2 separate regions of the Homo sapiens genome follow, and region 1 is linked to region 2. The links come from fine-mapping of genetic effects on gene expression. A gene starts in region 2. The other region holds a variant in brackets. All regions are shown on one strand. Distances are from middle to middle.

The links. PIP is the estimated chance that this variant, and not a neighbour inherited with it, causes the effect. A credible set is the group of variants that fine-mapping cannot tell apart.
Region 1: its variant is the best candidate, but not a certain one, in a credible set for the expression of DIPK2B in esophagus mucosa (GTEx, PIP 0.53).

The regions. Positions count from the first base shown.
Region 1 is chrX:45,149,584-45,154,961 of GRCh38, reverse strand. It overlaps DIPK2B (divergent protein kinase domain 2B), which reads left to right. Exons shown (of 5, transcript NM_176819.4): 4 at 764-1,052; 5 at 2,970-5,378. The coding sequence ends at 3,310. Among named protein-coding and RNA genes, the nearest start is that of DIPK2B, 49 kb to the left of the region's middle. The variant G/T (reference allele first, on the strand shown) is at 2,277.
Region 2 is chrX:45,198,204-45,203,581 of GRCh38, reverse strand. DIPK2B (divergent protein kinase domain 2B) reads left to right here and starts at 2,706. Exons shown (of 5, transcript NM_176819.4): 1 at 2,706-2,988. The coding sequence starts at 2,756.

The sequences.
Region 1 (5,378 bases), 49 kb after region 2:
GGCACGTGCCTGAAGTCCTAGCTACTCAGGAGACTGAGGTGAGAGAATTGCTTGAGCATAGGAGTTTGAGGCTGCAGTGAACTCTGATCATGCCACTGCACTCCAGCTTGGGCAGCAGAGCAAAACCTTGTCTCTTAAAAAAAAAAAAAAGTTTTGCTTTAAATCAGACTTAAGTTGATCCTCTATTATTTTTCCCATAGCCTCTTCCTAAGCAGTGATATCTGTGAAATCTCAAATAATCCTATTTGTTTCAACTATGCAACTCTTAAACATATTTCCCTGAATCCCTGATGCTATCTAAAATTGTGGCAAGTCCATTAACATTCTCATACCCTGCTTGGAGGAACTCTGTTGAAATGCACTCTACTACAAAGAAATGAGAGCAGCCTCCTTTTCTGAATCTTCCCATCAGTAATATAATTAAAAAATGGGGAAGGGGAGGGATGGGGCATTGCCATGTTCCAAGAGGTATAAAAAAGGTTGAGAGACACTTCACTGATGTGTTTTGAGATGCTGATCTTTCTGTACTTGCAGTGAGGGACAGAGATAGAGAGATGATAGATGATAGATAGATATAGGTAGATAGAGATAGATAGATGATAGAGATAGATGATAGATATAGATGATTGATATAGATAGACAGATAGATAGATAGATAGATAGATAGATAGATAGATAGATAGGGAGATAGATAGAGATAATAGACAGATAGAGAGCTGTCACCAGATTTTTCTCTCTAATCCTCCTCCTTCTGGCTTGGCAGATCTTCCCTGGGGCTGAGGGATGGCCGCTGCCCAAGTACCTGGGCTCCTGTGGCAGATTCCTCGTCAGCACCAGCACCAGACCGCTGCAGGAATTCTATGATGCACCCCCAGATCAGGCAGCCGACCTTGCCTACCAGCTCCTGGGTGTCCTGGAGTCTTTGAGGAGCAACGATTTGAACTATTTCTTCTACTTCACCCACATTGATGCAGGCATGTTCGGCGTCTTTAACAACGGGCATCTGTTCATCCGGGATGCCAGTGCAGTGGGCGTCATCGACAAGCAGGAAGGTACTCAGCATGGGCCTGGCTGAGCAGCTGTCAGAGGGAAAGTCAGGGTGACAGGAGCTAGGGAGGGGTGGCCAGGGGTCATGCTATTGGGCCTTTCCCATCTCTGCATGTCATAGTGAGAGCCACTCAAGTTCGGAGAATATTAGATTTCATGTAAAATGTCCCTCACTCCTATTTGAATTTCTACTCTAACTCCATCTCCAAAGGGGAAGTGGATTTGGCCTTGTCCATGAGAAGCATTGTGCATAGTGGCACAGCCCCAGCTGCACCCTCCCAGGGCAGTGCTGTTGTGCAATTGGGTCTATGTGGCCCAGGGACCTGCCTTGACCCTCCTTTCTCTCTCTCTCTCTCTCTTTCTCACTCTCTCTCTCTCTCCTCTCTCTCTGTCACACACACACACACACACACACACACACACACACACACACACACACAAAACTTTTGGGTCCATCTCCCACTCAGAGTCTTTCTCATCAGATGCTTTTACCCTTTATCTAAAACTTAAATATCAGGCTGATTCACTGGTATATTTTGCAATCCATTTTGGCACAATTGCTCTTTATAAAGTTTTCAAAGTAAAAAAGCATGGAACCAAATGAGGTGGATGACTGAATCGTGTTTCTCACTATGTGTAAAGTTTCATTCAGTGATCTAGAACCCTTCGAACACCCTAATCTCTAATGCTAACCAAATTTTCTGAGCCCAATAAGAGGACAAAGGATTTTATTTTCTAATTTCTGATTTTGTTTGTATGCAAAAGCCTACAAAAATAGACAAATTAAACCACACATTTATTTCCTGATTTGCCTTTATTAAAAAGAATCAAATTAGAAGAAATGAGGCTGATTCCAGAATATTCCGGATATGTAAATCATGAAACGTCAGTCACACTACAACTCATTGAATACATATTTGGGATTACTTGTTTTTTCTCCTAACTTTGCATTTTATTTTGTTTTTCATTTTTATTTTTGTTTTTGAGACAGAGTCTCACTCTGTCGCCCAGGCTGGAGTGCAGTGGTACATTCTTGGCTCACTGCAACCTCTGCCTCCCGGGTTCAAGCGATTCTCCTGCCTCAGCCCCCTGAGTAGCTGGAATTACAGACGACTGTCACCACACCCAGCTAATTTTTGTATTTTTAGTAGAGACGGGGTTTCGCCATGTTGGCCAGGCTGGTCTCGAACTCCTGACCTCAGGTGATCCACCCATCTCAGCCTCCCAAA[G/T]GGCTGGGATTACAGGTGTGAGCTGCCATGTCCGGCCCTCACTTTGCATTTTAAAGGCGCAAATGAAACCAGTCCCAATAATTTCCTGAGTTCACTAATTTAGTAATAATGAGAGTCTAACAATATGAATGTGATCTCTACAATTATCAGCCTAACTTCTGGTAGGGGTAAGTGGGTTTTCCATGCCCAGGCCTCACTCTATTGTAGCAGAGTGGATTCTTTCCACGTGGTTCTCAAAAGGAGCCACTGTGTCCCTGAGTCCTAAATCTCCTGGTGACAGGGAAATGCTAGGAGACTATACTAGTTCACCCAGTAATTTTTTTTTTTTGAGATGGCTTTTCGCTCTGTCACCCAGGCTGGAGTGCAGTGGTGCAATCTTGGCTCCCTGCAACCTCCGCCTCCCAGGTTCAAGCGATTCTCCAGCCTCAGCCTCCTGAGTAGCTGGGACTACAGATGCATGCCACCACACCCAGCTAATTTTTGTATTTTTAGTAGAGACGGGGTTTCACCATATTGGCCAGGCTGGCCTCGGACTCCTGACCTCAAGTGATCTGCCCGCCTCAGCCTCCCAAAGTGCTGGGATTACAGGCATGAGCCACCGCGCCCGGCCCCACCCAGGAATTCTAATTAGTGGTGCCCTCCCTCAAGGAGCACTGGTGGCAGGGTGTGTAATACTTCCCATTTCTTTTCTAGGCAGCCAAGAAGCCAACAGGGCAGGAGAGAATAAAGACATTTTTAGCTGCCTGGTTTCCGGCTGCCAGGCCCAGCTGCCCTCCTGCGAAAGCATCTCTGAGAAGCAGAGCCTGGTGCTGGTGTGTCAGAAGTTGCTGCCTCGACTTCTCCAGGGGAGGTTCCCCTCCCCAGTGCAAGACGACATAGACTCCATCCTTGTTCAGTGTGGGGACAGCATCCGCCCAGACCCAGAAGTCCTTGGGGCCGCCAGCCAGCTGAAAGACATCTTGAGGCCCCTGAGAACGTGTGACTCCAGATTTGCCTATCGTTACCCAGATTGCAAATATAACGATAAGTTCTGAAGGGCTGGTGTCTAGCTGGCCTTGGGGACAACACGCTTGGCTCTCCATTCTCCCAGTCGGGTTGCTGCAAGGTAGAAAGAAGCAGCTCTTTTTTAAAGATGAGAAGAAAGGCACACTCATTTCTTAGGGACTGAGAGGGGAGTTGTGAGATACCACGTGGCTGTCTCTGCTGGCTGGGACGTCCTGGCAAAGCCCGCGGTGGGCATCAGAAGACCTGGGTGTGGACGCTCACTCAATGTCTTTGAGCCTCAGTTTCCTCTGTTCTCCACCAGACTCTCCTGAGGGTGAAAGAAGACACAGATGGAGCCACCACTGAGCATATATCCCAAGCATGGGTCTTGGGACACATGCTCACCACCTCCATCCCAGGTGGTTACAAAGTGTGTTCTGGAAAAGCACAGAGGCGGGGAGCATGAGAAAGAGCTGCTCAGGTCAGGAGGCTGGAGTGGAGGGAAGGCAGGGGAAGGACAGGCTCCCTGCCACTACCACTTTAGACTCGGACAAGAGGGGCCCCCTTCCTGCTCCCTATGGCCCTGCGTCACTCCCCACACCATCGCGGGATGAGGAGACTGCAGGCCAAGGGGACATGCCTGCCACCACCTAGAGCCTGGTACCTGAGGCTCCATACACCTGCGCATGGGGCTTCTCGTGGTGTGGGAAGAAGCCAGGGGTAAGAAGATAAAGGGGGGCCGGCGGGGGACCAATGTGTTAGCCCAAGTCTTCCAAGAATATGTGTCAAGATAGAGTGAATGGAACAAAGATTTGTTAGGGGAAATGATTGTGTGTAAGGAAAGAAGGAGGGAGCCGGAGAAGATTGGGAGGACCAGTAAGTCGAGCTGCAAGCTGAGCCCCGGTGAAGGAGAGAATGTCTGGCAGGAGCTTGCTAAGCTCAAAATCAAAGAAAGGTTCAGCAAGGCTGTCAGGGTGTCCTCAAGACAAAGGCAGCCATCAGAAGAGCCCCGTGTCTCCCACAAATAGACCCCGTTAGCATCCCTGCTGCACTCAGTGGTTGGCGGAAACAGCAAAGATAGATTTCAGAGCACAGCAGCAGGGGTCCCTGGTCAGCCCCGCTCCCTAGAGCAGGAGATCTTGAGTGGGAGAACATTCTTGTTGTAGCCACAGCTGAGGCCCTGGACCAGCTCTCTCCACACCGCATGCTCCGAGTTGGGACTCTAAGGAGTCTAGGAATTTTCATTCAAACTTGGCCTTACAGGTCACTCATCAGAAAAATACTTTTTTCAAGGTCAACCAATAGAACATACTTTATTCAACAGTTTGTTAGTTTGCTTTTTAAATATTTAGCCACATGGTATGTAGGCTTCCATGTACACTCTTGCCCTGGCCCCTGAAACATAAGCAGGGGGCTCTTCTGTACATTTGCCCAGCTTCCCTGCCAGCCTTTAACCCCAGGAACCTCTCAGTCTACCTCCTCTTTTCTGCCTCTGAATCCCTACCTTTAAAGTCAGAACAGGCCAGGCCCGGTGGCTCACGCCTGTAATCCCAGCACTTTGGGAGGCTGAGGTGGGTGGATCACTTGACATCAGTAGTTCAAGACCAGCCTGGCCAACATGGTGAAACCCCATCCTTACTAAAAATACAAAAATTAGCCAGGTGTGGTGGCGGGCACCTGTAATCCCAGCTACTCAGGAGGCTGAGGCAGGAGAATCACTTGAACCCAGGAGGCAGAGTTTGCAGTCAGCCAAGATCACGCCACTGTACTCCAGCCTGGATGACACAGCGAGACTCCGTCTCAAAATAAATAAATAAAAATAAAGTCAGAACACCTGGCTTAATAGGCCTCACTGTGCAGATGAGGAAACTGAGGCCCAGGGAGGAAGAGCGATCTGTGGAGATATTTCTAGAACCCCTGCAAGCTGAGCCCCAGTGAAGGAGAGAAGGTCCAGTAGGAGCTTGCTAAGCTCAAAATCGAAGAAAGGTTCAGCAAGACTGTCAGGGTGACCTCAAAGCAATGGCAGCCATCAGAGGAGCCCCATTGCTATTAGGAGGCTCCTATTGCCCTCCCCTTCAGCCTCTGACTTTCACCTGTGCTACCCAATTCTGGTTCCTT
Region 2 (5,378 bases):
ATGAGTATTCTCAACATTAAAAGAGCTAAGTTTTTTTACAGCTATATAACCTTTCTGTATTTGCCTCTCATTGTTTCATAATGACTAATGATCCTATTTAATCAAGTGTTTTAGACTTTTTGATATTTTTTACAAACTTCCCAAAATAAGCTTCTAAATTAAGTCTTTTTGACCTAGAACTAACTTTGGGACATTCCAGAGGACCCCTGTAATGTCTGAAAAGATCTGTGCATAATTTTTGATAGTAGATTGTAGCCATATTTGTTGTTTTTGAGTTTTATTGTCTATTTGTAGACTGGACTGAATTCTGAATTCATCTTTATTCCTCCAATCCAATTTTTTCCCATTTTTCAGACTTGAAATCACTCAGAACAAGATGTGCTCTGTTCCTGAAACCCTGCCAGGCAGTTATAGACAACTTGATGTGACTTCTGAGGACAACCCTTATGCCTGATATGTGGACCACTCAGGAAGATCATTGAAACCCTCAGTACCATAACCAGAGACATTCAAACTGCAAACCAGAAAAATATGTTTCAAGCTCAAATCTAGCAATCTTGTTAACTAAATTTCCTCTGGACTCAGACTGAATTTATAGTTTGCTCTAGTCATTGACCTTTGGTTTTCTTTTGTTTCTCTAGAAATGTTAGTTGAGTTGGTTTGTGAGGACCTTGGCTAAGGAACATACTGCAGTCTTTCAGTATTATCCTCCTGGTAGTCATCATAATCTCCCTGGTGAACTACATTCACTTGAGGGTCTTAAATGTGTGTTCACAGTCATCAACGGTATGCCAGATGATCTCACTGTAATTAGAGCAACAAAAATGAGATGAACAACAAAAGGAATCTTTCCTCAATGAGCTTGATGTTGTGACTTATGAGTTTCACACTGAGACAAGGACAACTTAGCCATGATGGTCACAGAGAGTGGAGCTTATGCCCAAGTTTTAGTCAATATCTCTTAAATGAGAGGCTGATCAAAAAGGATGAATTATGTTTTAAAATTCTAATTGGAAGGCCATTAGACTGAGGTGGCTCTGGCACTTTAAATTCCTGTGTGAACAAACCAAAGCCTAATGTAAATAGTAAATTTAAACTAGAAATTGTACCAATCAAAAAAATCACCAATTAATCTCTAACTAGGGACTTTCCACTCTAACCAATAAAAATTGTTTTCTTTGTCCTGCTTCTGCAAACACTATAAAAGTTTCCTTTCTTGCCCCTCCCAGCAGAATGTTTGCAGTCTGATACTGCCCTGATTCATGAATCGCTGAATATTCAAATAAACTCTTTAAAATTTAAATGTGCTTAAGTTTTTCTTTTATCACACCTGACACCAAAAGCATGATTCAAAAAGAAAAAATTAACAAATTGGACTTCAAAATCAAAACTTTCACTCTGCAGAAGACTCTGTTAAAAGAATAAAAGACAAGTTAGCCCTGGGGAGAAAATATTTGCAAGCCACATATCCAACAGAGGACTCGGATCTAGAATATATAAACAAGCGTCAAAACTCACCAATAAAAAGCAAACATGACCAGACATTTTACTGAGGAAGCTATACAAATGCTAATAAGCACGTGCTTCATCATCAGAAAATTGCCTTTACCTGCTCTTCCCACCAATCTTTAGCAAAACTTGTCAATTGTCCAGAGGCAATCCCCACTCCCTCTTACCTCCCTTTTCCTCACCCCCAGCCCCATCTTCCTATGCACTTTCTCATATTTTCAAACCGTGCCCCGCTCCCCACCTCCACCCTCTCACAGAATGTGAGGCAGCCTGACTTCCCTGATTTGGTTCTCAGAGGTTCTCTCTACTCCCAAATTAGCACTTCCATCTACTCCATGCTGCGGACCTTATCTTGGTATCCTGAGGAAGGCAATCCTGGGGCAGTTAAATCCTACCAAATCCGGCCAAGCCACCCCGAGAAGTGAAGCAAGTTGGTAAAGGAAGAGAAGCTTTCAGGTCTGTGGGAGAGGGATAGACACAGCTGTGTGCTGTCAGAGGGCTCTTTCTGGTGCTCCCCTCATCATGCCACAGAGGCCACCGGGTTCTTTCTGGTCTCTTGTTCTCAGACCAGCAAGAGAAGATGGACTAACCTGAGGTTTTCTCTTCCCTAAGCAGCAAAAAGCTTTCAAATCAGTGCTAAATGTGCCAGTTAATGGCAAGCAAGCTAACCTCTAGTTATTTCACAGGCAAATATGGTAAAAGTGGGGGAAGGAGGGCTGATTAAGGGGCAGGACAAATGACCTAGCACAGAGGGGTCAAAAATTGGGGTGCACGTGTAATCCATAGGGACAGATAAACCTGGAATTAAAACAGTGGAGGGTGGAGGCTTTCAGGATCCTTTGAAACTCCCAGGTGGAACGCAGGTTGGACACACATCCTGCATGGACCTTTCCTGCCCTGCCGGGATATCCTGTGTTTGTCAAAAGGACCACACAGGGAAGCCCTGACAATTGTCCTTCCCGAAATCTGCCAGCGAGCCCCTCCCCAGCCTGAAGCAGCCACCCCCGGCAAAGGAAGAGTAACTCTGGAAACAGCGTTATCAGCATCCTCCACTGACTTCCTCACCTCCTCCCCAGCCTCATTAGCCCCAAGCTCCTCAGCATCCTCAAAGAGAAACCTGGGAGGCTGGGATGGGGTCAGCACCCAGAAGCCAGCCCCCTCTGACAGCTTCCTCTTTGGCCAAGCCCTGCCTCTGTACAGCCTCGAGTGGACAGCCAGAGGCTGCAGCTGGAGCCCAGAGCCCAAGATGGAGCCCCAGCTGGGGCCTGAGGCTGCCGCCCTCCGCCCTGGCTGGCTGGCCCTGCTGCTGTGGGTCTCAGCCCTGAGCTGTTCTTTCTCCTTGCCAGCTTCTTCCCTTTCTTCTCTGGTGCCCCAAGTCAGAACCAGCTACAATTTTGGAAGGACTTTCCTCGGTCTTGATAAATGCAATGCCTGCATCGGGACATCTATTTGCAAGAAGTTCTTTAAAGAAGAAATAAGGTCAGAATATCAATCAAATAACTCTGAATCACAAAATTCTGTTCCCTTCTTGTGAAGATGTCCAGGAATTTGTTGAAAAGGAATCAGGATGTAATATGGGTGGGAGCTGAAACAAATCCATTTAATCAGAGTGGTAATGGTCTGAAGTTGGGGTGGGTAAGAGGGCAAGATGTGAAGCCAAATTCCAGCCCTAAATGCTAAATCCAACATTTCCTTTTGAACTGAAAGCTTGAAGTTTTCTTTCCTATGAATGGAGTAGCCTGGGACTGTTGAGTTTATCAAGTTCATTTCTCACAGTGGGCGGGAAATAAAATTTATAGAAAGCCTACAATGTGACACCTATTTTAAATCATTGTGAGAGTTAATGGTGTTCCCCCATTATTGAGGTGGTAAGCTGAGACATAGCCAGATAAAGTGACTTCAGTGGGGGGAAATGGGTAACTCTGTGAGATGATGGGACCCATTTCACTATATATATGTATCTTACAACATCGTGTTGTATACTTTAAATATACACAATAAAATTTATTTTTTAAAAAAGATTAAGTAACTTGCACAAGGTCACCACCGAATAAGTAGCAGCTGTGGAATTCAAACCAGGACGGTTTGCTCCAAAGTTTCTGAGCCAGCTTTCTGTTGTGAGAGATTGCCTTGATCAGAGGAAAACTGGAGCTTAGTAAATTGCAATGCACATGGCTCTCAGCAAAGAATGGCATCACACTTGGAATTTAAGCCTATCAACACACAGTCCATGAGCCTTTACCACAGCCAAACTCTAGCAGGTACTGGGGTGACAGCAACTATAACTCTGGTCATTGCCTTCCTGGAGGTCAGGACAAGGGGGTCATGTTATAAATAATAATAATAAGGCTTTGTCTGATGCAGGGCAGTGTAAAGGACCTCCAGGAGCTCCATTAATTCCAAATGGGAACTGGGGAAGGGCTTCCCCAGGAGAAGGTATTCTGAGCAAAGCCTTTTAAAGGATGAGCTGAAAAGTAACGGGAAGTGAAGGGCTTAAGGTGGAAGTAACATCTTAAGCAAAGGTGTGGGAAGAAGTGAGAGGTGCTTAGCTAGAGCATGGGGTGTATGTGGAGGCATGACAGAGGAGGAGGTTGAAGGGATATATGGGGCAGGGGGTCTTTAATTGCCATGCCAAGGAATTGGGGCCTTAATCTTGTGGACCAGTGGTTTCCAGTCTTTTTAGTACCAAAGACCCTTTGTCATATATATGCCCTTTCTCCTCCATCTTCCTCAAAGGACCTAACTTACGCTTTTAAGATTTGGTGACCAAACAAAAGGCATTAATTAACAATGATTTTATTTGCAATCTGTATTAATCAAAGACATCTTTGCTTACTCAACCAAATTACTAAATAGAAATAATAGATAGAAATACCAATCAAAAATGTTAAACTTCTTTTGTGAGGTATTTTATGGAGTTGGTGTGGACTTTTCCTATTAAGCCTTTTTAAAGGCATATTAAGCGTTTTTAAAGGCATTTTTGAAAGACCACTGATTGAGGAATCTCTACTGCAGGCCATGCTGAGAGTGTTAGGCTGGGGAGGGGCAACATGAGACCTGTGATTTGGGAAGAGCTCGTGCAAAGTGGACAGGACGGACTGGTGGTGTTGGCAGGGGCTGTGAGACCAGTTGCCATAGTCCAGGACACAAGTCACTGGGAACAAAGTAGAACAGGAAGGATACAGGTCAGTTCAGCTATAGAGTCATCCTGTTGACCAACACTATGCGAGAGGAAATAAATATGCAGATGTTGGATGTGAACTCAAGGTTTTCCGCCTAGGAAAAGAGATAAAGAGGACCAAGAACACAGGTGAAGCAATGCTGATTCCTTGGAGAGAGGCAATAAGAAGGCAGACATATTTTTTAAAAGGAGGGAGAGAAATTTAAGGATTCAACTGAGGAAGAGCTCTAGGATGACTGCATATTCACCAAAGGGCAATAAATGAAGTTTTTCTTACTAGCATTTGGCAGATGCTAGCCAAAATCAGAAAGCATTTCCCTAAATAGGTTTGCATTCCGTTAGAGTCCAGGATATTACTTCATCTCCCTTAGAATTCATGTTCCATGTGCCCGTGAAAGGGAAGTGTGCAGATACAAGCAGGAAAACACCAGGCAGGGCAGATTGGGGTTTATAGCTCTGCACATTGAGAATGGTCATCCTCAGCACAAAGAGGCAGAGAGAGGCAGTCAGTGGGTCTGGGGAGGTGGTCCTGTTTAGAGTCCTTTTCTCTACAATATAAATACCTTTTTTCTTATTATCAAAGTCGTGCCTGTTTATTTTAGTATTTTCAGGAAAGGTTGATTAAAGAAAGCACAAAATAAAATCACATATAATTCTTCCACCAAGAGATCACCCCTTAGTCAACATT